Homo sapiens: one gene and its partners. The protein of the gene in region 5 purifies or fractionates together with the protein of the main gene of each other region. This does not show direct contact. Each region holds a gene or a part of one and is shown on either strand. Other genes may lie near its edges. The genes, in order: PRDX4, SDHA, COBL, ALDH18A1, ARHGAP39, PDHA1 and ANP32A.

The links.
Region 1: the proteins of ARHGAP39 (region 5) and PRDX4 purify together in Homo sapiens (affinity purification with mass spectrometry, with the first as the bait; one large-scale study listed by BioGRID). This does not show direct contact.
Region 2: the proteins of ARHGAP39 (region 5) and SDHA purify together in Homo sapiens (affinity purification with mass spectrometry; one large-scale study listed by BioGRID and IntAct). This does not show direct contact.
Region 3: the proteins of ARHGAP39 (region 5) and COBL purify together in Homo sapiens (affinity purification with mass spectrometry; one large-scale study listed by BioGRID and IntAct). This does not show direct contact.
Region 4: the proteins of ARHGAP39 (region 5) and ALDH18A1 purify together in Homo sapiens (affinity purification with mass spectrometry, with the first as the bait; one large-scale study listed by BioGRID). This does not show direct contact.
Region 6: the proteins of ARHGAP39 (region 5) and PDHA1 purify together in Homo sapiens (affinity purification with mass spectrometry, with the first as the bait; one large-scale study listed by BioGRID). This does not show direct contact.
Region 7: the proteins of ARHGAP39 (region 5) and ANP32A purify together in Homo sapiens (affinity purification with mass spectrometry, with the first as the bait; one large-scale study listed by BioGRID). This does not show direct contact.

Annotation. Positions count from the first base shown.
Region 1 is NC_000023.11:23,677,060-23,681,099, reverse strand, and holds part of PRDX4 (peroxiredoxin-4 precursor), read right to left. Parts: intron 1,936-4,040; coding exon 1,813-1,935; intron 1-1,812. UniProt on the Homo sapiens protein: Thiol-specific peroxidase that catalyzes the reduction of hydrogen peroxide and organic hydroperoxides to water and alcohols, respectively.
Region 2 is NC_000005.10:231,485-235,524, forward strand, and holds part of SDHA (succinate dehydrogenase [ubiquinone] flavoprotein subunit, mitochondrial), read left to right. Parts: intron 1-1,992; coding exon 1,993-2,161; intron 2,162-3,659; coding exon 3,660-3,855; intron 3,856-4,040. UniProt on the Homo sapiens protein: Flavoprotein (FP) subunit of succinate dehydrogenase (SDH) that is involved in complex II of the mitochondrial electron transport chain and is responsible for transferring electrons from succinate to ubiquinone (coenzyme Q).
Region 3 is NC_000007.14:51,187,623-51,191,662, reverse strand, and holds part of COBL (protein cordon-bleu), read left to right. Parts: intron 1-584; coding exon 585-813; intron 814-3,704; coding exon of another isoform or gene 3,705-3,749; intron 3,750-4,040.
Region 4 is NC_000010.11:95,632,430-95,636,469, reverse strand, and holds part of ALDH18A1 (delta-1-pyrroline-5-carboxylate synthase), read left to right. Parts: intron 1-2,820; coding exon 2,821-2,979; intron 2,980-3,420; coding exon 3,421-3,511; intron 3,512-4,040. UniProt on the Homo sapiens protein: Bifunctional enzyme that converts glutamate to glutamate 5-semialdehyde, an intermediate in the biosynthesis of proline, ornithine and arginine.
Region 5 is NC_000008.11:144,577,736-144,581,775, reverse strand, and holds part of ARHGAP39 (rho GTPase-activating protein 39), read left to right. Parts: intron 1-498; coding exon 499-930; intron 931-3,695; exon of another isoform or gene 3,696-4,040.
Region 6 is NC_000023.11:19,350,255-19,354,251, forward strand, and holds part of PDHA1 (pyruvate dehydrogenase E1 component subunit alpha, somatic form, mitochondrial isoform 1 precursor), read left to right. Parts: intron 1-1,005; coding exon of another isoform or gene 1,006-1,026; coding exon 1,027-1,153; intron 1,154-2,827; coding exon 2,828-2,919; intron 2,920-3,997. UniProt on the Homo sapiens protein: The pyruvate dehydrogenase complex catalyzes the overall conversion of pyruvate to acetyl-CoA and CO(2), and thereby links the glycolytic pathway to the tricarboxylic cycle.
Region 7 is NC_000015.10:68,810,707-68,814,746, reverse strand, and holds part of ANP32A (acidic leucine-rich nuclear phosphoprotein 32 family member A), read left to right. Parts: intron 1-4,040. UniProt on the Homo sapiens protein: Multifunctional protein that is involved in the regulation of many processes including tumor suppression, apoptosis, cell cycle progression or transcription. Promotes apoptosis by favouring the activation of caspase-9/CASP9 and allowing apoptosome formation.

The DNA of each region.
Region 1 (4,040 bases), on a different chromosome or scaffold from region 5:
CCACCACGCCCGGCTAATTTTTTCTATTTTTTTTAGTAGAGATGGGGTTTCACCGTGTTAGCCAGGATGGTCTCGATCTCCTGACCTCGTGATCCGCCTGCCTTGGCCTCCCAAAGTGCTGGGATTACAGGCGTGAGCCACTGCGCCCGGCTATGTATTCTTTATTTTTAATTTTAATTATTTTTTTAGAGACAGGGTCTCACTCTTGTTACCCAGGCGAGAGTGCAGTGGTGTGATCATAGATCATTGCAACCTTGAACTTCCAGGCTCTAGCGATCCTCTTATCTCAGCCTCTTGAGTAGGCTGGGACTACAGGAATGTGCCACCACAATGGCCTAATTTAACAAAAAAAAATTATTTTTTTTTTTTTGTAGAAGACAAGGGTCTTGTTATGTTGCCCAGACTAGTCTCAAACTCCTGGGCTCAAGGGATCCTCCCACCTAGGTCTCCCAAAGAGCTGGGATTACAGGCATGAACTACCATGCCCAGCTGAATTGTATTCTTTAAATGGGTATTGTATTATATGTGAACTATATTCCAATAAAGTTGTTATAAAAAAACACAGGATTATAAAATACTGACACTTTCACATAAAACATTCAAGAAAAACTATTGGCACTACAAAGCAAATCAATACAACCAAATTACAACTGTTCCACACTAAAATTGCCCCCTTTTCAAAGAATTCTATTAATGTTTGTTAGCTCAAGTAACCCAGTGAGAGCGTCTGGGTAAAATATTTCCTTAATTTTTCCTACTCCAAAGACACAGGTTTGCTAAGTAGTATGACACTTGTATTTAGAAAAAAACATTACTGGAGTCAGGTTGCAAAAAAGGAAAAAGAAATGGACAAGGAGTTGGGGGACCTGGATTTAAGTCTGGGCTCTGCAATTAAATTATTATATAACTTTGGCTAAGATCACGGAACTCTATGAATCTGTCTCTTTTATCTGTAAGATGACAGGGTGGGTGAAAGACCTCTAAATAATCTTCCAGCTCTAAAAGTCTATGATGCTAACATAGTTTAATCAGGGTAATATAAACTAACGGTTTAAGTTTAGTAGTTTAAAGACTAATAGAACAAAGTAACATTTTTCTTTCTTTCTTTTTTTCTTTTTGAGACGGAGTCTTGCTCTGTCGCCTGGGCTGGAGTGCGGTGGCGTGATCTCGCCTCACCGCAACCTCCGCCTCCTGGGTTCGAGCGATTCTCCTGCCTCAGCCTCCCGAGTAGCTGGGACTACAAGCGTATGCCACTATGCCCAGCTAATTTTTGTATTTTTTAGTAAAGATGGGGTTTCACCATGTTGGTTGGCCAGGATAGTCTCGATATCTTGACATCATGATCTGCCCCCCTCGGCCTCCCAAAGTGCTGGGATTATAGGCGTGAGCCACCATGCCCAGCCAATTATTTCTTTTTTTTTTTTTTCACTCTGTCGCCCAGGCTGGAGTGCAGTGGCATGATCTGGGCTCACTGAAACCTCCGCCTCCCAGGTTCAAGCAATTCTCCCACCTCAGCCTCCCGAGTAGCTGGGACTACAGGCATACGCCACCATGCCTGGGTAATTTTTATATTTTTTGGTAGAGACAGGGTTTCACCATGTTGGCCAGGCTGGTCTCAAACTCCTGACCTCAAGTAATCTGCCCACCGTGGCCTCCCAAAGTGCCAGGATTACAGGCTTGAGCTACCGTGCCTGGCCTCAAAATTATATTTCTTGATCAAAATTTGTTCTTCTATTTCATAAATAACATCTATTTCAAGGAGGATTATAAACACGCTTGGATTTGTCATAATATAAAACCACTGAAAGGTACCTAAGAGTGTGGCCTGAGTCCTCTAGGTATACACCATAGTCCTTTGAGATCTGATGGGTCAAATCTGAAAGAAGTGGAATCCTTATTGGCCCAAGTCCTCCTTGTCTTCGAGGGGTATTAATCCTGTAACAAACAGAACGCTTACCTCTCAGAGCTAAGTAAACGGCATATATTAAAACAGCACTCTTTCTCTATACATGCACACGCACACACATGAAATACACACATTCTTTCACTAACAAAAACAGGCTAATATACTTTCTATTTTCTTGCTTTTCCCATTTAATATATTCATATCCTTTAAACATTAAAAATATATATACACAACACATTTTTATTTTATGTTTTTGAGACAGGGTCTTGCTCTGTCTCCCAGGCTGCAGGGCAGTGACGTGATCATAGCTCAGCGTAGCCTAAAACTTCTAGGCTCAAGCGATCCTCTTGCCTCAGCCCCCTGAGAAGCTGGGACTACAGGTGTGCACCATCCCACTGGGCTAATGTTTTAAACACTTTTTTGTAGAGATGGGGTGTGGCTTTGTTACCCAGGCTGGTCTCGAACTCCTGGCTTCAAGCAATCCTCCTGCTTCACCCTCCCAAAGTGCTGGGATTATAGCCGTGAGCCATTGTGCTCAGCCTACAACACATTTTTGTTTTTTCTGAGACGGAGTCTTGCTCTGTCGCCCAGGCTGGAGTGCAGCAGCGTGATCTCGGTTCACTGCAACCTCTGCCTCCCAGGTTCAAGCGATTCTCCTGCCTCAGCTTCCCAAGTAGCTGGGATTACAGGCATGTGCCACCACACCTGGCTGATTTTTGCATTTTTAGTAGAGTCAGGGATTTACCATGTTGGCCAGGCTGGTCTCGAACTCCTGACCTCAGGTGATCCACCCGGCTTGGCCTCCCAAAGTACTGGGATTACAGGCGTGAGCCACCGCGCCTGGCCTATAACACATTTTTAATGTATGGATACACAGATACTCCTTGACTTAAGATGGGGTTGTTTCTTTCTTTCTTTTTTTTTTTTGAGATGGAGTCTTGCTCTGTCACCCAGGCTGGAGTGCAATGGCACGATCTTGGCTTACTGCAACCTCTGCCTCCCAGGTTCAAGTGATTCTGCTGCCTCAACCTTGTAAGTAGCTGGGATTACAGGCACCCGCCACCACGCCCAGCTATTTTTCGTATTTTTAATAGAGATGGGGTTTCGCCACGTTGGCCAGGCTGGTCTCAAACACTTGACCTCAGGTGATCCGCCCACCTTGGCCTCCCAAAGTGCTGGGATTACAGGCCACTGTGCCCGGCTGGGGCTGTGTCTTGATAAACACATCATAAATTGAAAATATCATTAGCTAAAAATGTATTTACTATCCCATAAACCCACTGTAAAGTTGAAAAATTATACGTCAAACCATCGTAAGTCAGGAACATCTTTACTGTATTTTACTTAATTCCATGATGAAGATTTAAACCATTTACCTTTTTTTTTTGCTTTATAAACACTGCTGAAAACATCCTTGTATTCTTACTTTTATACACTTGTCTAATTGATTTCTGAAAGTGAAACTGATAGATCAAAAGATACGTAGTATCAAAAGCATAACCTTAGTAGTGTGATCATAAGATAAAGCCTTGAACAGACAGGCAGGATACAAATGGATGACATTTTAATATTCTGAGAGACAAATGCAAAGTCCACTTGAAGCAGTGAAGGAAGTGAGTTATAATATCAGATGCCTCAGTCTTCACTACAGGTTGAGTATCCCTTATCGGAAGTGCTTGGGACCAGAAGTGTTTTGGATTTAGGATTTTTTCCGATTTTGGTATATCTGCATACTTACTGGTTGAACATCCCTAATCTGAACTCTGAAATGCTTCACTAAGCATTTCCTTTGAGCATCATGTCAGCACTCAAATTTTGAATTTTGGAACACTGTGGATTTCAGGTTAGGGACGCTCAATCTGTATTCTGTAACTTGAAACCAGGAGACATGGGCTGATGCTCTAACAGGAGGGTACTGACACAGCAGATAGAAAACAAAACGACATTGCTCTAGATATCTGGAGCCCCAGTTCTGACACCCAAGTAGAAATTTCTGGTTGATGTGAACCCTATCAGGCTGAGAATGTATCCCCAAATTTCCTTGGGAAAGCAATCCCAAATTATTTGGGATGCCATAACTTTTTCCTTAGTGGATATGCATTTTAATCCTCGGAAGATTTATAATTACTACAGA
Region 2 (4,040 bases), on a different chromosome or scaffold from region 5:
GGGAGGCAGAGGTTGCAGTGAGCCGAGATCGCGCCACTGCACTCCAGCCTGGGCAACAGAGTAAGACTCCGTCTCAAAAAAAAAAAAAAAAAAAGTAAAGCAGGGATTGTTCAGTGTCCCTCTTCGCAACGAGGTCGTCAGCTCCTCGGGCAGGCAGGTCTTCTCGTTAGCTGTGGTGCTCCATGCCCAGCACATGGTAGGGTCTCCACCGGGGTTTACTGAGTGAACATTCTGAGAGCTGGGAGAATGCCATGGAACCGAGAAGCAGCACAGGCAGACTTCAGCTTTGTAGGAGAACACGGAGCTTCTGTGACAATGGGATGTAAAGTTAGGACGCAGCCGTGACAGAACCCCATGTGACATTGGGCGCTGGGCTCAGCCCACGTGACCACTGAGAGAGCTTGTCGTGGGGAAGATGAGCTCGTCTTGGGGACGTCTGACGGTTGAGGTTACGAATGTGCAATTCGGAGACATTAACTCAGAAATGACAGTTGAAGTCTTGAGTTTGGAGGAGGTTCTTCAGAATGAGTCAGAGACAGACACACACCTGCCTCTTGTTTGAGGTGACTTGTCCTATACTTTTCTGGGTTGCTTTTCTGACCTGTGGACGATGGAGACCTCTGAAGTGGTGCCAAAGAACCAGACCTGTGTCTTCTCTTTCTCTGTCAGTGTCAGCTTTCTGATCCCTGGAAGGGATGAAAATAAGAAATGAATTTGTTGTAGTGTTTTTTTTTTATTTGTTTCGAGATGGGGTCTTGCTCTGTTGCTCAGGCTGGAGTGCAGTGGAGCAATCTTGACTCACTGCAGCCTTTGTCTCCCAGGCTCAAACGATCCTTCCACCTCAGCCTCCCAAACAGCTGGGACTACAGGCATGTGTTACCATGCCCAGCTAATTTTCGAGGGTTTTTTCGTTTTTGGTAGAGACGGGATGTCACCGTTTTGCCCAGGCTGGTCTCAAACTCCAGGGCTTAGGCCATCCTCCTGCCTCGGCCCCTCAGGGTCCTGGGATTATAGCCATGAGCCACTGCACCCGGCCTGTTGTATTTTTTATTACTGTTTTTAATGAATAAAATGTCACTGAGCCCCTGAATTCCCTCTGTAATTTGCTTAGAGCTCCACTGCTCATGCTTTGTCTTCAGTATGTGAGAAGTAACCACAGAAAAAAGAGCATTGAAACTTAGAAAATCAAAAGACAGACAAGAATCACATTCGTTTTTTAAAAGCAAGATTGCCCTTTTTGTATACTAATAAAAATTGTAGCTTTCGAAATACATTTAGTTTAGGGTTTTTGATCTCCTTTGTTAAAATTCGAGAGCTTGGCATGCCCTGTTTCTCATCGCACTGAGGAGTCACAGAGCCGCTGTTTGGAGCACAGACCGCCGGACTACCCAGGTTTGGGTTTGAGCTCTGTCCTCAGCTGCATGACTGGATGTTACCAAGTGTTAATTTGCTTGTCACTGAGAAAGGGGGTCGTACTACCCAGAGTTGTTGTAAGACTTAAACGAGTTAATATGTGGAAAGCAGCTAGAACTGCCCATAGCAAGTGCAGTGTAAATATTATCTAAAATAATCATTATTACTGTCCTTGTCACTGTTTGGATAATTTAGATATGAATACTTCAAGCTAGTATTCTTAACTAGTCACCACAGTATCATAGTGCAAAAGAATGTTCAAAAATTAAAACAAAATTTGAGGCATCCAACGTACACTGGGCTGTAATCAGAGTATTGGCCAGAGGTCTGTGGGCCGGCCTTTCTCCTCTCTGGGGACACCGCTCTGCCCCAGCCTCTGCTGCAGCTGTCAGCCTTGTCAGTGCTTTTTGTTATCCAGACTTTCTACTGTATCTTAACTGTCTTGCTGTGCAGTTTTGCACATAATGCCTTCTGCTTATCTTTTTCCTCTTTCCCCCAAAAAATGTCTTGAAAAAAATAATGCATTTGAAATAGAGATCTAGCAATTGTTAGGTAATAAATATGTGTGGTTTTTTGCAGGCATATATGGTGCTGGTTGTCTCATTACGGAAGGATGTCGTGGAGAGGGAGGCATTCTCATTAACAGTCAAGGCGAAAGGTTTATGGAGCGATACGCCCCTGTCGCGAAGGACCTGGCGTCTAGAGATGTGGTGTCTCGGTCCATGACTCTGGAGATCCGAGAAGGAAGGTGCGTGTGATTTACCACCAGCACTGTCTGAGCGGGCACACGGGCCGGGGTTGCTTCTGTGAGTTTCAGCACCGCTCGCCCTCACCTTCGTGTGCAGGCGCATGTGCACAGCCACCTCTCTTAGCTGCTGGCAGGCGTCTGTTAGTCTGCGATATTTTCCTAAAGACCTACATTTTGAAAATTTTAGCCAGTTTCTTTCTCAAATCTGTGGAACAGAGTTTCTCTTAGTGTGTGTGAGTATGTGACGGAGTATGGGAGAGAGAGACACACACCCAACCTGAAGTCGGCATGTGAGCCTTGGGTGTTGTGTCTGATACCCACAGATGTTTTTTGGCAGCTTTCAAAGTGTGTGGGTTATTTGGCTTTCAGTAAAACAGTTTGCAGCTCTTTCATTGCCTGACCCTGTTCTTTAATGTAATGACATTTGCTAAATATCTGCTGGTATGGCCTTTAGAGGTTTTACATTTTTATATTAAAAAAACAGAGAAGTCAGGTGGGGCGCAGTGGCTCACGCCTGTAATCCCAGCACTTTGGGAGGCTGAAGCGGGCAGATCAGGAGGTCAGGAGATCGAGACCATCCTGGCTAACACGGTGAAACCCCGTCTCTACTAAAAATACAAAAAATTAGCCGGGCGTGATGGCAGGTGCCTGTAGTCCCAGCTACTCGGGAGGCTGAGGCAGGAGAATGGCGTGAACCTGGGAGGCGGAGCTTGCAGTGAGCTGAGATCACACCACTGCACTCCAGCCTGGGCGACAGAGCAACACTCTGTCTCAAAAAAAAAAAAAAAAAAAAAAAAAACAGAGAAGTCAAATGGTTTTTTGGAATATGGTGGCCCTCCGTACCCATTGGTTCCACATGTGTGGTTTCAGCCAACTATGTATTGAAAATAAAATTGCATCCTTACAAATATGCAGACTTTTTTTCCTTGTCATTGTTCCCTTAACAATACAGTGTAACAGCTATTTACGTAGCATTTACATTGTATTAGGTACTATGAGTCATCCTGGAGTTGCTGTAAAACTTAAACGTAAAACTTGAAATGAGGATGATTTAAAGTATAGAGGAGGATGTGCATAGGTTATATGCAAATACTCTCCCATTTTATATTAGGGACTTGAGCATCCACGGATTTTGGTATCCGTGGGGGTCCTGGACCCAACCTGCCACGGATACGCAGGGACGACTGTATTTGGCATAGAGGCCTTTCTAATGCACTTACCAAGGACACCTGCAGCAGGCTGTGATCCCTGAGACGAGCGTGAGTTTAGTGAGGGCAGAGTTTTTGTTCTGGTTCTCAGCTGTGTCCCAGCACCTGGGATTGTCCCTGGCACACAGTAGCTGCTTAGAAAAGATTTGATGAGAGGGTGACCATACATGAGGGGAAATTTTCCTCAGTATCAAAACATGTTGAAACTCACACACTTCCAAGATGACGTATTCTCAGGTCTCCTGCCGTTGCCGTTCTCTGCCGTATGTGATGGTGTTCTGTCTTACCAGAGGCTGTGGCCCTGAGAAAGATCACGTCTACCTGCAGCTGCACCACCTACCTCCAGAGCAGCTGGCCACGCGCCTGCCTGGCATTTCAGAGACAGCCATGATCTTCGCTGGCGTGGACGTCACGAAGGAGCCGATCCCTGTCCTCCCCACCGTGCATTATAACATGGGCGGCATTCCCACCAACTACAAGGGGCAGGTGATGGTGCTGGCTCCTCCCCCACAGCTGGAAAGAAGGCTGGGACGACGGGGCCCACCTCGCAGTTGTCTCTTTAGATCTTACAGGAAAAGATAGATGTTTCCTTCAAGAAAGTACTGTATTGTTTTCTAGATTGCACTTTAAATTTCTATTACCGGAGGATGGAGGGGGCTTAATAATTTATT
Region 3 (4,040 bases), on a different chromosome or scaffold from region 5:
TACGTGTGTGTAGTGTGTATACATAAATACATGTAGGTCTGTGTACACACTGTATATGTTTCATATATGTGTGTATATAGTACATATATACAGTATATATGTATTTATATATATATATATCTATGTACATATATAGATATTCCTGTATTTATGTGGATATTTTGACTCCTTAAAACTTTGATGTCATGTTTTTGGAGGGTTTTTCTTTAAATTATTCATACTGCTTCCAAACTTTTTTTTTTAGAAAATGCATATAAGTGCCATGTGTTCACATCTGGCCAGAACCCTTGGAAGACAGTAAAGTATATGTGTTGGATTTTAAATGTAGAGTCTTCCCTGATGTTTATTTCGCTGTGTTGTTAGCAGCTTGTTCACTAGCAAGAGATTCTAAACCAGATTTATTATTCTAGACATTTGTTTTTCAATATTCATTATGCTGTTTTCCCCCATTACTCACTCAATTTGTGGAAGAAGGATTCAGGCTACACACAATCCTGCCACACCCAATTGTCAAATTGACACAAGAGTTGAAGGCTTGTGGGAGGATATCTTACTGAATTCTTTTTGCCTGTGTGTTCTTCCAGAAATCTGTGCGTTTGGTCGTGAATTACCTGCGGACACAAAAAGCTGTTGTGCGTGTGAGCCCTGAGGTTCCTCTCCAGAATATTCTCCCAGTCATTTGTGCAAAGTGTGAGGTCAGCCCAGAGCACGTGGTTCTCCTCAGGGACAACATTGCCGGAGAGGAGCTGGAGCTGTCCAAGTCCCTGAACGAGCTCGGGATAAAGGAGCTCTACGCGTGGGACAACAGAAGAGGTGAGGCCCCGCTGCGTCTCACGCACCTGCCCATAATCACACGGATGCGCGGCGTGTACATGTCCCCTGTTGGCTCTCCCCAGCACTCTCAGTAGCGCCAGGGAGAGATGGGTACATGAAGTTCCAGGCAAGTCAAGTTGAAGTAGGCAAAAAAGAAATCTGGCCTGTTTTCATTCCTCTGGATTGAGCTGTGCCTCCTTTCTCCCAGCCCTGAACATGTCCTTTATCCTTTGTCTCCCTGCAAACTTCCACGACATAAGTAAAAGGGGAAAAGGTGAGGTGAGATTAGAGCTTATGCTCTGAAGTAACTACTCCAAACCATCTATAATACTTTCTTGTGGGTTGGTGGCTCACACTTGTAATCCTGGCACTTTGAGAGGCTGAGGCAGGAGAATGGCTTGAGCTCAGGAGTTCAAGACCAGCCTGGACAAAATAGTGAGACCCCGTCTCTACAAAAAAATTTTAAAATTAGCCAGACGTGGTGGTGCATCCCCATTCCTGTAGTCCCATCTACTGGAGAGGCTGAGGCTGGAGGATTGGTTGAACCCAGGAGGTTGAAGCTGCACTGAGCTATGATTGCACCATTGCCCTCAGCCTAGGTGACAGAGTGAGACCCTGTCTCTTTAAAAAAAAAATTATCTTGATTTTCTTTTTCAGTTGCCATTAACTGCTGTTCCCAGGTTTCAAACATTGCTCATGTCTAAAACCAGTGGCAGAAATTCATTTAGCTGTTCTCTAAAACTGAACAATTACAGTGCGTGAGATCCATTCCTGAAGATAACTTTAGGGCCACCTTAGGCCTCCTCACTGTGTTGCCAGTGTCATCCTGCTTGCTCATCATGTGAAACTGGCTTTTAGTATGAGGCCACAGTTAGAGCCACTGGTGAGAGTGGCAGCCCAGAGGCCTTGCTGGTGCAGAGACTGTTATGTTGTGTAAGCACATGTTTCTGATTGATATAGAGTGCTAACTGCTACTGTCAGGCCAAAGGAAATGTTATATTCCTTGACCTTAGAATGATCAAAATGGACTTCGTAAAAGTTTCTCTTCTAATAAGCCTCATTTGATGTCTGTTGTCTCTGTTTCATTATTCCACAAATATTGAATAGGTTGAGTTTAAAAAATATATACATATTCAAGTTTTTCCTGTTTTTCTATGACTTTTTTTTCTAATTTTTTCCAACAAAAATGTATTTTTTCTCTTTTTTTTATTTTTTGAGATGGAATTTCACTCTTATAGCCCAGGCTGTAGTGCAATGGTGCAATATCGGCTCACTGCAACCTCCACCTCCCAGGTTCAAGTGATTCTCCTGCCTCAGCCTCCTGAGTAGCTGGGATTACAGGCACCTCCCACCATGCCCGGCTAATTTTTGTGTTTTTAGTAGAGACGGGGTTTCACCACGTTGGCCAGGCTGGTCTCGAACTCCTGACCTCAGGTGATCCGCCTGCCTTGGCCTCCCAAAATGCTGGGATTACAGGCCTGAGCCACTGCGCCTGGCCATATTTTTTCTTAATACCAAGTTTATTGTGAAATCCATGATCATAGTGGAATCTCTGTCCAGCCTTCCTCTCCCCGCCAAGTCCGCCCTTGTCTTCCTGGGTATCTGGCATCTAGATCTGATTTGACATTCAAGAGAGGGTTTTGGCTCAGTTGAGTATAAGATACATGGACTGTTTATTTCTTCAAAAAAAGTACTCTGACATTTGAGAATAATGCATCTTGTGTTTTATCCAGTGTCTTTTTTAAAACACAGACAGAAATAGTCTCAGTATTGCTGCAAAGGCCTGGTGGCACTGAGTATATCAGCACTATTTAAATTTGGTTTACATGACTCTTTGGAAACAGCTTCCATTTGTTAAGATAAAAAGAAAAATAAAGGGAAAACTGTTTCACGTTCAGGTATCTGAAATAAAAAGGCTTACAAGTGTTTCTGTTACATGCTACCACTTGGATGTATCTTGAAAGGTAGATGTTGAACCTGGCACTTGGGAGAAGTGATATAAAACCTGCCTGTCTGTGAAGGAGAGGACCCAGGATAGCCCATGGTCATTGGGAATGTAGGAGCTGAAGTGTTCATGTGGTCAGGGGCCCAGAGCATCTCTTCTGATCCTCATATGGGACAGAGCAGAACAAGCCGGTGCGGTCAGCTTGGCCGTTCAGATTTGGAAGCACTTCTGCCCTTGGTTGGAACTAGCTGCTCCCAAACCTCCAAGTCCCCCTCTCTACTCCTTTGGACATTTTGGCCCTTTCCACCCCACCCCCAAGGCACCACGAGCTTCCCCACCATGGGGGCTCTGCTCCAGCCTTGTGGCCAGCACCCCTTTCGTCTGGACCATGCCTGTGCCATGCCAGCTGTGACATTTGATTACCGTCCCTGCCAAATGCCTGCCTCCTGCTCACTGTCAAATATTCGAAAAGAAAAGACACTTGTCCAGAGGCCATCTCCGAGGCTCCCTTTCTCCCCTACAACCGCCCTGGGCAGGCCTGCTGGGTACTGCTGGAGGAGCCCTTACTTTCAATCCTCTTGGTAGGCACTTGGAGGGGACAGACGTCCACTCCTGAGCCCTACCACTGCTGGAGAACAGAAGGGCAGCTGGCAGGAGGTGAGGCATTGCTACGCAGAGGCCTGCCCTCCCCTGGAATCCCCGGTGGGAGCATCTTGATAAAGCCAAGGGCTCTGCTGCCACCTGCGTCCTCAGCGGTGCTTAGCAGGCTATGCAGCTGTGGCCCTGAGAGGGCCAGCCCAGAGAGGCAAGCTGACCCAGCAAGAGACCTTCTCACTGCTGCAGCAGGACAGCCCCCCTCTGAGGCTTGTGAGGGCCAAGGCCTGGGTCAGGGACTCCCACACATCTCAAAGCTGGACCTCACTCTCTCATTGCCTGCCTTTTCCAGTTCGTCTGAGCAAAACTCAGTCCGAGCCTTCCCTGAGCTGTCAAGGTACAGTGAACCTGGGGCTTCCCGCTCCCGCTGTGAGGCTGCACTATGCATGGCTCTGGGGTCAGAGCTGCACAGAGGTGATGTTTTTGTGCCAGACTCCAAGGAATGGAAGTTTGGCTTGGGGCCCTCCTGAAGGTGCATGCGAGGCTGACATGAGATTTTGGTTTGGTTTCTTGATTCCCTGGTTGGTTCAGATAAGAATGCTTCTTAGGAGAATTTGCTGTGTGGCTCTAATTGATGAGAAATGAGGGAGGCTGTTACAGAAAACAAATTCTGTTGCCCAATAATTCA
Region 4 (4,040 bases), on a different chromosome or scaffold from region 5:
TTCTTTCTACATTGTTTCATTTTTACCTAAATCTCCTGAATTTTTTTGAATTATATTCTTAATCAACTGTACAACTACACACTAGAGACATCTCAATAACAGTCACTTCAGGAAACAACTGAAAAAAAAATCTAACTCCCAAATTATTTTATTTTGAAATTCCTTTACCTGTAAAGATGTAAAATAGCTGTTATTTTATATTATGGATATTATTTTACATGTACACTACATGCACAGATGTTATTTTACACAGGTGATATTGTTATATATACATATATTGTTTCAGGTTTTGCTTCTTCATTTCCTGTTACTTTTTTTTGTTTCTCCATCATTTGCCTGTTTGTACCCACAGTGATGTTCTGGTATTACACCAGAGTGTCCTCAAGTCAGTGAGGTAAAACAGAAAGGCACGGACTTGTCCCATTGCCTATGGCTGGGGACCCCACTTTCTGTAGTCTTAGCTTTTTTTCTGTTAGTATAAATACAGTATAAATCTCTATTTATATCACTCTTCTTTATTATTTGGTTTCTCTTCACAGTCCAATGACAACTTTGGTCTTTAATTTTTTTAAAGTGCCTGGAGCCAGGTGAGGAAGCTCAAGTCAGGGAGCTATGGTTTTGCTTTGGTTTGGTTTTTCCCAGGGATGAAACCTTTTGAGAGTTTGTTTTTGTTTTATTTTGTTTTGAATGATGGTAGCATTAAGAGTCCATGCAGCATCAGCCATTGTTTCCATTTACATTGAGTGAAAGAAGAGCCCTGCCCCCTCCAGTTCCCAACAAGCTTCAACCCCTGGGCTCTTTCCTCTCACACCTGTGTCTTCCCCCAAGGCCATCATATCTACAGAAAATATTTGCCCTTTGTACCTTTTCCTGTGGTTCCTTATTTTCTTCAGTAATCCTATATAGAAGACCATTGTCAGTGGCTTTTGAAAATTTCCAGTAGGTGGTTTGCCAGGTTAAAGACTTAAACACTTAAAACAGCTTGTTTTTTCTTCATAGAAGGGAAACTGATTTTCCCTCAACAGATTGCGCTTGTCTAAACACGTACTTTTCCCTCTTGGGACTCTTTATCTCCTACCTTCATGCTGAGATCCCCAGGCCATGTTTGTGAAGCTATTTTGGTGACAGGTATTTTTCCTGGACCTTTAGATCTCCTGCTTGTCTCTCCTACACACGGGTTTATATTAATTGTTTGATCTTTCACCATCGTGACTAGAATCTATATGTTCAGTTTGGACCTAGTCCTGTGTCCAACAGCACTAAGCTTTTCTGAAAAGGAGTTCATGATCTTCCCTTTCAAAAATATGCTCCATTTTATTTTTCCCCAAGACATCAACATTCTTATTCTCCATTCCAGCAGCTAGACTCTGGCATTTCAGAGGTACTCAACAAATTTTTTATCGAGTGAGTGAATTATTTTTCTATATGTATGTTTCCTGTGTTTTATATACCATTAAGGCTACTGTTTTATTGCTATATTCTTCTCAGTTACCATAGCCAGACCCTTAACCATCCTCACTTTGACTGTTTCAGTGCCTGCTTTCTTTACTATTTGCTTCCAGCTTTCCCTACCTCATCCTGCCCTACACAGCAAGAACGCTCTTCCGTAAACATTAGAGAGATTGCATTATTTATTGTTGAGCCTCAAGGTTTGTTGCCATTTAGTTTCTTGCTATCTCCATTCACCCATTTATCTTTTTCTCCTAAACATTGCATAAAATTCTGATTTAAGCTAGAAAGCAGAGCTGTTTACCAGCCCACACACCAGCTCTCCATTCTACCTTTGAGCACCTTATGCTCATCTCCTCCCTTGAACCAAGTTGTGTTCTGCCCCCCTTTCAGCTTGTGACCAAAGACTAACTTCCATAAATTTCTCAGACTAACCCCACATGCTCACACACAATCTTAGTTAACTCCAGTAATAGTCTGCTTTAGAGCAAGAGCAGTGACAACACAGCCCTATTCCATTTTGTCTAATACACTTTCACTCACTCACCAAATATTTAAGGGCCTACTATGGCCAGGCCCTGAATCAGATCCTAGAATACAGAGATATTTTAGAAATTGCTGGGGCACAGCGGTGTGCATCTTTAGTCCCAGTTACTCAGGAGGCTGAGGTGGGAGGATCACTTGAGAGTAGGAGTTCAAGTCCAGCGTGGACAACAGAGTAAGACCCTCTCTATAAAAAAAGAAAAGAAATTAATGGATAATCACTGATTCCCCCAGTATCCCTCTAAAATAGATACATTAATTTTCTTAATTTTGTAAATGGATGAGATTTTGGAATTTGGTAGCTCTTTGAGGATTAAAGTACTTTTGCAAGAAGTCTTGAACATTCTTAAATAAATCTTTCAGATTATTGTAATTTTTTTTATCTCTACAAAAATTGGGGCCAGGTGCAGTGGATCACACCTGTAATCCCATCACTTGAGGCCAGGAGTTTGAGACCAGCCTGGCCAACATGGCGAAACCCTGTCTCTACTAAAAATACAAAAATTAGCTGCGTGTGCCTGTAATCCTAGCTACTTGGAAAGCTGAGGCATGAGAACTGCTTGAACCCAGGAGGTGGAGGTTGCAGTGAGCAGACATTATGCCACTGCATTACGGCCTGAGCGACAGAATGAGACCCTGTCTCAAAAAAAAAAAAAAAAAAAAAAGAATTGGATAGCACCCAGATATGTGTATTTCATTCTAATCTTCTAATCTGTGTGGGGCCCCAGAAACCTAAAGTTTAACTCCCCTGCTCTTAGCGTCTTTTGTATACTGGGAAGTTTAGCGTTTTTCTCCCTCATGCATTTTCCATCTATTTAATCCTTTTAGATTTTGGTGACCAATTTGGATTTCCATGATGAGCAGAAGCGCCGGAACCTCAATGGAACACTTCATGAACTCCTTAGAATGAACATTGTCCCCATTGTCAACACAAATGATGCTGTTGTCCCCCCAGCTGAGCCCAACAGTGACCTGCAGGGGGTAAATGTGGGTAAAGTATTTCTAAGGGTTTAGCATGCTGGAGACACTAACACCATGCTATGCTGCATGCACTAACACCAGAAGTTTGGCATAAACAAGATGGAAAAGTTGTGAGAGAAACTTGTCATGGAGCAGTGACTGCATAAGCTCTTCTGAACTCGTGGTTGCATTCAACAGGGTGAGGTGCTATAGTCACTGAAGATGGTGCGATGAGCATGGCTTGTATATTTCAGTGGCTAGAAGACTGCATGTTTGGAAAAAGGATTGCCAGTAGACAGTGTGTTCTGCAGACAGAAGGGGCCTGCAAGAGCCGTCATCTACATATTTGGGTTCATTGGTTTTGCCTGATCCTAGCTTGGTTTTGCCTGAGCTTGGCTGTGTTCTTCCATGAATTTCTTTTTGGACTGCTTAGCTCACTCACTTATGACTTTTTAATCTGCATTCTAGGTTATTAGTGTTAAAGATAATGATAGCCTGGCTGCCCGACTGGCTGTGGAAATGAAAACTGATCTCTTGATTGTTCTTTCAGATGTAGAAGGTACAAAGTAATGCTTTTTTCCTTTATCTGCCCTTTGTTTTAAATGCTACATATGTGAGCACATGAGTTTCCCTCTTTCTTTGAGTCCCTCTGATGTTTTTTTGCTATAGATCATTAGCCATATGTTCTGACAAAGGGCTTTTATGACTCAAAACAGGGTGGGTGAGTCTAAGAGATGTCATTTGAATCCTGAAATGTTACTTCCAGGTGCTTTCAGTTGTTTTCCTTAAATAACAGCTTTATGGAGATGTAATTCACATACCATACAATTCACTTATTTGAAGTTTACAATTCTGTCCTGGCGTGGTGGCTCACACCTATAATCCCAACACTTTGGGAGGCCAAAGCGGGAGGATCACTTGAGCCCAGGAATTCAAGATCAACCTGGGTAATATAGTGAGTCCCTGTTTCTACAAAAAATAGAAAAGTCAGCTGGACATGGTGGTATGCGCCTGCGGTTCCAGCTACTCGGGGCTGAAGCAGAAGGTTCACTTGGAGCTGGGAGTTCCAGGCTGCAGTGAGCTGTTAT
Region 5 (4,040 bases):
GCTGATCTGGGGGATCCTTGGGAGAACACAGCTTGGGAGTCCAGCAGCACTTAGCTGGGCCTGAGGCCCCTCCAGACCCCGACCCAGTGTGGAGGTGGCGGTCCAGTTGCAGCGGAGGGGCTACTGAGCAGGTGTGCAGTGATGACTCGCAGGCCTGTGCCACGATCCTGCAGGACGGAGCAGTGGGCAGTGAGGTTGTGGCCTGGGTGCCTGTGAGGACAGGAGCCTGCAACCACAGCCAGTATGTCCCTACCCCACGTGGGGCCCAGGACCCCCCAAAGGGCTGCACCACCCTGAGGCGCTGGCGGCTCCGGGGGCTTCCCCGGTTGCGGGTGCTCAGGAGCACAGCAGTCAGGGGCGGACTGGGCTTGGGTTTGCTTTCCTCTATGACAGGATTTCTGGGTTTCGCAGCTGGGGCTGGAGCCGGGGTCTGCAGGGGTGGGAGGCGCGGGCCCAGGCCGCCGTGGCTCCAGCCGCCTTAACCCTGTCTCTCCCCAGGTTGGAGTGGGTGGAGATCATCGAACCGCGCACCCGCGAGCGCATGTACGCCAACCTGGTCACCGGTGAGTGCGTGTGGGACCCGCCGGCCGGCGTCCGCATCAAGCGCACCAGCGAGAACCAGTGGTGGGAGCTGTTCGACCCCAACACGTCCCGCTTCTACTACTACAATGCCAGCACGCAGCGCACGGTGTGGCACCGGCCGCAGGGCTGCGACATCATCCCGCTGGCCAAGCTGCAGACGCTGAAGCAGAACACGGAGTCCCCGCGCGCCTCGGCGGAGAGCAGCCCCGGGCGCGGCAGCAGCGTCAGCCGTGAGGGCAGCACCAGCTCCTCCCTGGAGCCCGAGCCCGACACTGAGAAAGCGCAGGAGTTGCCAGCGAGGGCCGGGCGGCCCGCGGCGTTTGGGACAGTGAAGGAGGACAGCGGCAGGTGAGGGCGGGGGCAGCTGCTATGGGCGGGGCCAGGTGAATGGAGTGGGCGGGGCCAGGTGAGGCAGGTAGGGGGTGGTGGGCGGGGCCAGGTGAGAGCGGGACTGGTGAAGGTGGTGGGCGGGGCCAGGTTAGGAGTAGGTCGGGTATGGTGGGCGGGGCCAGGTGAGTGGAATGGGCGGGGCCACGTGAGAGCGGGACTGGTGACGGTGGTGGGCGGGGCCAGGTGAGGAGTAGGTCAGGTATGGTGGGCAGGGCCAGGTGAGGGCGGTGGGCGGGGACCCAGGGGACTCAGTGTCCCCGCGAGTGGCCAGAGCCTCGTCCTTGGCTGTAGCAGCCACCGCTGCTGTCCCCAGTGAGCACTTTCTTGTCTCTCTGGGCAGCAGAGCCTGGCGCTCAGCCTCAGAGGGTTCTGGGTCCTCCAACCCTGCCCCTCACTGGCCCAGCCCCTGGCAGGTGGTGGTTCCTGAGAGCAGTGTCTGAGGGGCTCGCCCAGCTCTCTCTGCTGATGGGAGATGCAGATGTGGGGATTTGCGTGCGGGCGTGGGGTGTGTGGACCTAGGGGGACCCAGGTGGAGGGTGTAGATCAGTGTGGACACAGCTGAGGGGTCTGAGCAGGCTTGGAGGTGGTCCTCTGGAGTCACAGTGGCTCCGAAGGAGCACAGCCTGTGTTGGTGGGAGCCCAGGAGACCCCTGCCCTCAGAAACAGGGAGAGGTCAGGGTAGAGCGCAAGGGCCTCGAGGTGAGTGCACCGTGGGAAGCGAGTCCAGAGAGGACGGTGGGGAAGAGCCGAGGCAGGCGGGCAGGACAGTGGGGAAGGGCTGAGGCAGGCGGCAGGCCAGCAGGACAGTGGGGAAGAGCCGAGGCAGGGACAGGAGGCTGGGGCTTCCCAGAGCCCAGGCTGTGGCCCAGGGCAGACAGGCCTGGCCACTGCAGGGGCGGATGGAGGCCACTCTGGAGAGGATGGAGGAGAGGCTGGACCCCAGGGAGAGAAAGGCAGGGGATTGGTCTCCCCCAGTACCAGATTTTCGGTGCTTGGCTGAGGTTGCCAGGGGAGCTGAGGCCCAGGGGCTTTCTGCAGAGGTGGGAAGGAGCGTGTTGGACTGCCGGGCTCATCTGAGGCTTCAGAAGAGGGATTCAGAGTGAACCACAGAGCTCAGAGGACAGCAGGCTTCCGTCCCACCGTGCCGAGGTGCAGGCACAGAGGGAGGCGGGCAGCAGGTTCATCCCGTGGACCCGGTCTGGCAGGATGAAAGGGAGGCCAGGGATGGGGCCTGCTGCAGAGTGGGCAGGAGGTGGGGCAAATCAGGTGTGGAGGAGCCACTGGAGCACACCGGGAAGACGGTGTTGGTGTCGGTATTCAGGGCAGGGTGAGCAGCGGAGGCTCGGGCGTGGCGTGGGTGAGCGAGCGGTGCAGAAGGCGGGCACAAAGAGGACCAGGGCCTACATTTCACATCCCACCAGCAAATATGAGGGTTCAAAGTTATCCACGGCCTTGCCAACACTACTTGCTTTCCTTTTTAGATTTCTTTTAGCTATTGTAGCCACTGTGAAATGTCTCATTGTAGTTTTGGTTTGCATTTCCTTAATGACTAATGACTTTGAGCCTTTTTTCACTTTCTTTTTTTTTTTTTTTTTTTTTTTTGAGACAGAGTCTCGCTCTGTCGCCCAGGCTGGAGTGCAGTGGCACGATTGCTGCTCACTGCAAGTTCCGCCTCCCGGGTTCACACCACTCTCCTGCCTCAGCCTCCCGAGTAGCTGGGACTACAGGCACCTGCCACCACGCCCAGCTAATTTTTTGTGTTTTTAGTAGAAACAGGGTTTCACCATGTTAGCCAGGATGGTCTTGATCTCCTGACCTCGTGATCCACCCACCTCCCAAAGTGCTGGGATTACAGGCATGAGCCACCACGCCTGGCCCCTTTTTTCACTTTCTTGATGGTATCATTTGAAAAACAAAGGTTTTTGTTGTTTTTGTTTTGTTTGTTTGTTTGTTTGTTTTTGAGACAGGGTCTCTCTTTGTCTCTGGGGCTGGAGTGCAGTGGTGCAATCTCACTGCAGCCCTCACCTCCCGGGCCCAGTGACCTCCCACCTCAGACCCCCAAGTATCTGGGACTGCAGGCACGTGCCACCACACCAGGCTAATTTTTGTATTTTTTTTGTAGAGATTGGGGTTTCACTATGTTGCCCAGGCTGGTCTCCAACTCCTGAGCCCAGGCAGTATGCCCACCTATGCCTACCAAAGCACTGGGATTACAGACATGAGCCAAAGTACATGAGCCAAAGTGTGCATGGCCAAAGTACAAAGTTTTTAATTTTGGCCAAGAAAAGTGGCACACGCCTGTAATCCCAGCACTTTTCAAGGCCAAGGAAGGCAGGAGTTTGAGGCCAGGAGTTTGAGACCAGCTTGTCCAACGTGGCAGAACCCTGTCTCTACTAAAAGTACCAAAATTAGCTGGGAGTGGTTGTTCACACCTGTAATCCCAGCTACTCGGGTGGCTGAGGCAGGAGAATCACTTGAAGCCAGGAGGTGGAGGTTGCAGTGAGCCGAGATCGCACCACTGTACCCCAGCCTGGGTGACAGAGCAAGACTTTGTCTCAAAAACAAACAAACAAAAATTGACCTGTCATAGATTTGGGTTCATTTCTGGCCTCTCAATTGATTTGCATTGATCCATATCCCAGTACCACATTGTTTTGATCACTGTAGCTTTGTAATAAGTTTTGAAACTGGAAAGTGTGAGTCTTCCAGCTTTATTCTAATTTTTCAAGGTTGTTTTGGCTATTTGGAGCACCTTGCAATTCCACAAGAATTTGGGGATTGGCTTTTTCATTTCTTTTAACAACAACAAAAAAAAAGCTTTTGGAATTTTGGATCTGTGTGGGGGATTGTGTTGGATCTGTAAGCTGATATTTCATCCAAGCAATATTAATTTTCTAATCCATGAACAGAGGATGTCTTTTCATTTGCTTATGTCTGATTTTTCTTAGCAGTGTTTTATATTTTCTAGTTTACAGTCCTTTCACCTCCCTGGTAAAGTTTCTTCCTAGATATGTTATTCTTTTTGATGCTGTTGTAAGTGGAATTTTTTGTTTGTTTGTTTCTGGATT
Region 6 (3,997 bases), on a different chromosome or scaffold from region 5:
GTCTCTCTCTGTCGCCCAGGTTAGAGTACAGTGGTGATCTTGGCTCACTGCAGCCTCTGGTTAGAGTACAGTGTGATCTTGGCTCACTGCAGCCTCTGTCCACTGGGCTCAAGCAATCCTCCCACCTCAGCCTCCCGAGTATGTGGGACCACAGGTGCACACCAACACACCCAGCTAATTTTTGTATTTTTTGGAGATACGGGGTTTCACTATGTTGCCCAGGCTAGTCTCAAACTTCTGGGCTCAAGTGGTCCGCCCACCTTGGCCTCCCAAGGTGCTAGGATTACAGGCGTGAGCCACTGTGCCTGGCTGAAGCCAGTATTTTAGAATTAAAAAGTAGAATGCCAAAACCTGCTATGAAGCTTAGGCTAAAGAATTCATTCACACATAACATTGCCAGTTTTCTGTACCTGTTCTTAGAGTTTTACTATTTTAAAACTTTCTGGCACTATGATCGCCTGTACTGTATATAATTTGGAGAGAAAGGATTAGTTTGTTTTTTGTTTTGTGGGCTTAGGTCAAGGGTTAGAGTCAAATACCTACAAGGGCCAGCCAGGTAGAATAAATGAGTGAAGAAGGCTAGGTATACAAAACAGAAAATGGTGACAGGGACTCATGCTGAACTGGCACCAGCATGCCCTACCCAGAGGAATGCCATGACTTGGTTCCAGCCAGTTGGTGCCATGTGGAAATCAGGGGTAATGTTTCCTGTTTTCCATGTCTAAGAGAAGGCGGAAGTCTGGATTTTCATGTGAAATTCCCCAGTGTTTTAATGTTGACATCTGATGTAGGCTTTTCTTTTAGGTCATCATACAGGAGAAAGGAAGGAAGTGGCACATGTGTGGGTTGCCAGTTTATTGCTTCTGGTTTGGGCCTTCCACTCTGTATTTTGGTGGAAAATAGCTACTTTCTCTGGTTATTAATGACAGGTTCTACTAGCCCACATATTTCACTGTGGTCTAGGAAACGTTTTTATTTAGAAACATGTATCATATTGCCTCATAGTTTCTCCTTCCTCTAACACAGGAAGCTTGCTGTGTGGGCCTGGAGGCCGGCATCAACCCCACAGACCATCTCATCACAGCCTACCGGGCTCACGGCTTTACTTTCACCCGGGGCCTTTCCGTCCGAGAAATTCTCGCAGAGCTTACAGGTTTGCTGTTGATTTACAGAAAGGGGAAATGAGTGGATTAAGTTTTTAAATATCTGTCATTAAGATGCTATTATGAGTTAATATTTGTTAAAAATTTTAAGTTTCTTTTTTTAACCCTCTCTCCTTTGGTGCTCTGGTACTTCTGTTGTGCTCTTGAGTTAACTGACCATTTGTGAAGTTCTCTGGCCCCTCAGGTAAAAGTTTAAAACAGGTTGGTGCTATAAAATCACAGTAGGTTTGGTTATCATTCAAGCATGCCAGAAGAAGTCTAGCAGTCATAGAAAGTAAGTTCGGTTGAAGCACTCCATGGTATGCAATGTAAATTCTAGAAATCTTCTTAATATTCCCCTTTTCTTTGTCCCCCGTGACTATTTGTTTGTTTTGGTGGTTTTTTTTTTTTTTTTTTTTTGAGACTGTGTCTCACTCCGTTGTCCAGGCTGGTGTGCAGTGGTGTGATCACGGCTCACTGCAACCTCCACCTCCCGGGTTCAAGTGATTCTCATGCCTCCACCTCCTGAGTAGCTGGGACTACAGGCATGCACCACCACACCTGGCTAATTTTTGTATTTTTAGTAGAGATGGGGTTTCAACATGTTGGCCAGGCTGGTCTCCAACTCCTGACCTCAGGTGATCCACCTGCCTTGGCCTCCCAAAGTGTGCTGGGGTTACAGGCGTGAGCCACCGCACCTGGCCTGTTTTGTTTTTTTGAGACAGAGTCTCGCTTTGTTGCCCAGGCTGGAGTGCAGTGGCCTGCCTCAGCCTCCCAAAATGCTAGGATTACAGGCGTGAGCCACTGTGCCCGGTCCTCCTCCTCCTCCTTTTTTTTTTTTTTTTTTGAGACAGAGTTTCACTCTTTCACCCAGGCTGGAGTGGCTGGAGTGAAGTGGTATGATTTTGGCTCACTGCAGCCTCCGCCCCCCGGGTTCAAGCAATTCTCCTGCCTCAGCCTCCTGAGTAGCTAGGATTATAGGTGCCCAACCACCACACCTGGCTAATTTCTGTATTTTTAGTAGAGACCAGGTTTCACCATGTTGGCCAGGCTGGTCTTGAACTCTTGACCTCAGGTGATCCACCCTCTTCGGCCTCCCAAAATGTTAGGATTACAGGCGTGAGCCGCCGTGCCCGGCCCTCCTTGACTCTTGAACTATGGTTGTCCCTCTATATATCCAGGGGATTGGTTCTAGGACCCTCGAGTATACAAAAATCCTCAAATACTCAAGTCCCAAAGTCAGCCTTCCATATCTTCGGGTTTGCATCCTGAGAATATTCTATTTTCAATACATGTGTGGCTGAAAAAAAATCTGTGTATAAGTGTACCTGTGCAGTTCAAACCCTGTTCAAGGATTGAATATATTTAGTGTACTAGTATAGGAGAGGTCCTAAGATGTTTGTAACTGGCCAGAAAACCCAGAAAAGTCCAGGGTATCATCTGGATGGAACATCTGAAGGAAACTAAGTGACTAGAGAGTAGGAAAAGCTGGAAAGGTTGAAGCACATGGAACTAGTGAAAGGACAAGGAGAAACATGTGTTTGCCTGGAGGGACAGGTACTTAGACGACTGAACTGGCCTCTGTGTTCTAATGGTTGAGCCTCAGAGTACATATTTGGGGTGCGGTTTGGTTTGCTTTGTAGAGTTGGTTTGTTCTGCACATGTGTATGTTCTGCCATTTCCAGGACGAAAAGGAGGTTGTGCTAAAGGGAAAGGAGGATCGATGCACATGTATGCCAAGAACTTCTACGGGGGCAATGGCATCGTGGGAGCGCAGGTAGTCAAGGACGAGGATTGTGTGCTGCTTTAGATTTGGCCCTGGACTTTGTCTTCAAAAACTTTCACAGCCCCAGACAACTTTTCCTGAAGTAGTACAGCCATGTGCTGCACAGTGACGCTTTGGTCAATGTCGCATATATGATGTTGGACCCATAAGATTATAATGGAGCTGAAAAATTCCTGTCGCCTAGTGATGTTGTAGTGGCACAACACATTACCTTTTCTACGTTTAGGTACACAAATATTTTGCCTACAGGATTCAGTAGAGTCACATGCTGTGCAGGGTTGTAGCCTAGGAGCAGTAGGCTCTACTATACAGCCTAGGTGTGCAGTGGGCTGTACCATCTAGGTTCGTGCATTACAGTATGGTGTTCACATGACAAAATCGCCTAGTGATGCAATTCTGAGAATATATCCCTGTTGTTAAGTGACGCGTGACTATTTTGGGGGCTTGGTTTGCTTTTAAAGACCTAGTGCTTCATATCCTACCGTTTGAGAGATGAGTAGATTTGGATGGTGATTTATAATGTTTCCTTTTAGGTGTCTGCTGTTTTATAAGTAAGCAGGAACCTCTAGCAGTGGAGCCATACCTTCCCCTTCCTATTTATATTTCAGTACATTAATTGCTTTATCTTGTCAACTTCATTTTGGGGTCCTTGTTCTCATCAGTTAGTGAATGATGAAGAATTAACAGCACAAAATTATATCCGGACTGTTTCTTTTCCTTTCTAATATATTAAGATTCTATTATGTGTTGTTTTTTTTTAAACCTAGGTTTTATTTTTCCTTTTGAAATGGAGTCTTGCTCAGCCGCCCAGGCTGGAGCAGTGGTGTAATCTCAGCTCACTGCAACCTCCACCCCCGGGTTCAAGCAATTCTCCTGCCTCAGCCTCCCGAGTAGCTGGGAATATAGTTACGTGCCACCATGCCCAACCATTTTTTGTATTTTTAGTAGAGACGGGGTTTCACCATCTTGTCCAGGATGGTCTCGATCTGTGGACCTCGTGATCTGCCCAAAGTGCTGGGATTACAGGCGTGAGCCACCACGCCCGGCCAGGTTTTATTTTTTAACTCTT
Region 7 (4,040 bases), on a different chromosome or scaffold from region 5:
GTGTTTCCTGGGGAATGAACCAGCAGCATAGTGGCTTTGAGTTTCAGAAGTTTTTCCCTCTAGCGTCTTGTGCCTGAGCTAATGAACGGAAGGAATGGTTATAAAATTGGCCAGGTCAAGGGGAGGAGGAGATAAATTCAAGGGGACAAATCCTAGTCCCCATAACAGCAGCCTGTGTTATGACAGCACACCACAGCCCCAATTCCCTCTTTCCTGCTGCTGCTGCACCACCAGCCTCTCAAGGTGGCTTACTCTAGACTTACACAGTTGGCCATCTTTCTTTTTTTTTTTCTTTCCCCATAGCAGTATGAGACTTGTTTCCTTTTTTATTTATTTATTTTATAATTTTTGTAGAGACGGGGTTTTGCCGTGTTGCCCAGGCTGGTCTCAAACTCCTGGACTCAAGTGATCTGCCCACCTTGGCATCCCAAAGCGCTGGGATTACAGGTGTGAGCCAGCGTGCCTGGCCCCCTTCTTCAATACCATTGGAAAGACATCTGCTTGAGCTTTCAGAGCTGTCCATCCCAGAGCTTGGGTCCAAATTAATTACATCACATTGAAATAAAAAACTTCCTGGAGGCTGGGTGCAGTGGCTCACGCCTGTAATCCCAGCACTTTGGGAGGCCGAGGCGGGTGGATCACGAGGTCAGGAGATCAAGACCATCCTGGCTAACACGGTGAAACCCCGTCTCTAGTAAAAATACAAAAAATTAGCCGGGCATGGTGGCGGGTGCCTGTGGTCCCAGCTATTCGGGAGGCTGAGGCAGGAGAATGCCGTGAACCCGGGAGGCAGAACTTGCAGTGAGCAGAGATCGTGCCACTGCACTCCGGCCTGGGGGACAAAGCGAGACTCCGTCTCAAAAAAAAAAAAAAAAAAACTTCCTGGAAATTGTGTAGGATACTCTTTAGACATCTCATGCCTTTGCTATTTTGGTGCAGTCACTTAGGAAAGGAGCCGGGAGCTTGTTGGTGATTGGGCCCTGGCCCAATGAACGTGGCCCAATTGTCTGGCCTGAATTCTAACTTAGTTTAAGAGGAGGCTCATAGCTCTGGTGTCTAGAGAGGCATTCCTTTAGAAATGTTTGCCACCAGCATCCCTCCTCTTTGTTTTGGCAGTCCATCCCTTACTCTAGCTAGTTCTCTGGTCTCCTAGGAACTACCCTCTCCCAGTCCCCCAGCACCACTGCCTTCAAGTAGAGAAACATGGACCTGACTCTGAATCTTCTATAGCTTTGAAATAGAATTATACAACAAATGATAAATACCCAACAATGATGTTTTCATTAAAGAGATGGAGTCTGGCAGGGACAGAGATTTGTGAAGGCATCTGTTATTCAGAACTTCTCATTTAATAAAATTTGTTGAAACTAGATGAGCAAAGCACCATGGCCCTGAGCCACCTTCTCAGACATGGAAGCAGCCTCCTTGTCTAGAACTAGTTGTCCTGATGATATACAGACTCTAAGGAAGATAAAAGTCCCTTTATTCTACCACACCAAGCCCTGTCCTGGGCCTGCTGGGCCACACCCTGCAACCCAGTGCTTTCCCTCAGATTTATTTTGTTTTAGCTCCACAGCTGCCCCCTGAATTCATTCAGCTACTGTTTCCTTTACCAAAACTTGCTCCAGGCAGCAGATCTAAAAGATCAGCTTACTTACTACTCCACTGTTATTTACTCTAATGTGGATTAAAGTCAGCACTGTTTTTCCCAGAGGTATTTACATTTGGAGATTCTGGTTTGGTGAGGAAATTACCAGAGAACTATTAAAGACTTGGATGCTCTTCTCGGCTTTGCTATTAAGTAAGTTGGACAAGTTGTTTGGCTTCTTTGAGCCTCTGTTTTCTCCATTCTGAAATTCTAAAATGGGAGTGTTGAATTAGATCAGTGGCTTTCGAACTTTCTGCTCCTAGTAGTGAGAAATACATTTTACTCCACTCCCTGGTATGTACACGCATTCCTGTGTTTTGTGAAAAACCGACACCATGCTCCTCCCTCACTACATGTAAAACACTTTTATTCATTAAAAAGAAAACTGACTGGCTTGGACCTACAAATTAGTTTCATTATTTGTTAATGTTTGAAAGCCATTAAAAGATGAATATTAAGGTTTCTTTATACTCAATACTTGTAGTTTTGTTTGGGGGAATGAGAGGATGCCCTTGGTACCTTTGTGAGGCCTCTCCACTGAGGGTCAATCATGACTTCTGTTTTAAACCAGCCCATCCCATCTTCTCCAGCTGCTCTCCTTATGTCTTGCTTCTCTCCCCTCCAACCTTCTCAGCATAAGGACTCAATCCTAGGCTCCTACCCCAGACGGGTGCCTTCCAACGTTCCTGGTGCCAGTGGCCCCCCATCAGCCATGTTCCCCCAGCCCCTTCTCCACACTCTTGTCACCCAGGGCCCCATCCTTCAGTGCATTGCACACTTTGCATGCTGGGTCAGGGAAGATTGTGGAGAGAGGACAGTGCACCTGGTTTCCCCCACATAGACTGCGTGGGGGTATGTCCTGCTTCCGCCACTTCCAACTGTGGCACTTGGGCACGCCCCTCTCAGGGCACCTTCCCTTTTTGTCTCCGCAAAATGAGGTTGTAATAGTGCCTGCCGCACTGTCTGGCACACAGTAAGCTCTCAAGAAATGTTAGCTGTTGTTGCCGTTAGAACACCATAGCTAGAATACCATACCTGGCATTCACTTAAAAAAAAAAAAAACAACTTAGGGCCAGGCGCAGTGGCTCACGCCTGTACTTCCAGCACTTTGGGAGGCCAAGACAGGCAGAGCACCTGAGGCCAGGAGTTCAAGAACAGGCTGGCCTTGTCTCTACTAAAAATACAAAAAAAAAAATCAGCCGGGTGTCGTGGCAGGTGCCTGTAATTCCAGCTACTCTGGAGGCTGAGGCAGGAGAATCGCTTGAACCTGGGAGACGGAGGTTGCAGTGTGAGCCGATATCGTGCCACTGCATTCCAGCCTGGGCAACGAGCGAAACTCGGTCTCAAAAAAACCCAACTTACATTATCCGCAGACACATTACATACAAAAGTAACCATTTTCTTTCAATGGGAAAGGAGGTTTAGAAGCTAGAGATTCAAAGTTACCAGGAGTTACTTTTTCCCACTAGGAATTCACTACAGTCCTGACATTGGACTCTAGGTAGTTTCTACTGAGGGTAAGTGACTCGTCCCTCTTCTGGGCAACTCTTTTTCTTACTGCCCTCAGCAGCTATTTCAGGCCTCCACCCCTTCCCTCCCGGCCAGGACGTCCTCTTCACAGAAAATGGAAACCTCCTGGTTTCTTAAGTAGTTGTGAGGCTGAACCTGCCTTAATCCCTCCCAGTTCAGTGGTCTTCTTGTCTTGTCCATCCCTCCCTCAGTTCCCTTGTTCCTCCTGGGCACCTAGCCACTCCTGTCCTTTGGATTCTTCTCCAGCTGGGGATGCTTCTCCCATCTTAAAGCAAAGACTCTAATTGATCCCGTGTTGCGCTGTAGTTACTGCCCATCCCACTCTTCTCCCTACTCCCTAAACTTTCTGAATTGTCTATCTTCTCCATCCTGTCACCTCTCTTACTCCACCACGTGAAGTCTGGTTTGCTTCCTAAATAGTGCCAAGAATCCCAACAGCCTTCATTTCTTATCTTGCATGATGTCTCAGTGGCGGGATTCAGCATTCTTTTTTTTTTTTTTTTTTCCCAGACAGAGTCTCACTCTGTGGCCCATGTTGGAGTGCGCAGTGGCTTGATCTCAGCTCACTGCAACCTCGACCTCCTGGGTTCAAGCGATTCTCGTGCCTCAGCCTCCCGAGTAGCTGGGATTACAGGTGTCCACCACCACGCCCGGATAACTTTTTTATTTTTAGTAGAGAAGGGGTTTCACCATGTTGGCTAGGCTGATCTCGAACTCCTGACCTCAAGTGATCTGCCTGCCTCGGCCTCCCAAAGTGCTGGGATTACAGGCGTGAGCCACTGCGCCCGGCTGGGATTCAGCATTCTTGACTTTATGATAGATGCTCTCCCTTTCTCTGGTATATCTTCTACGGCTCTAGTCA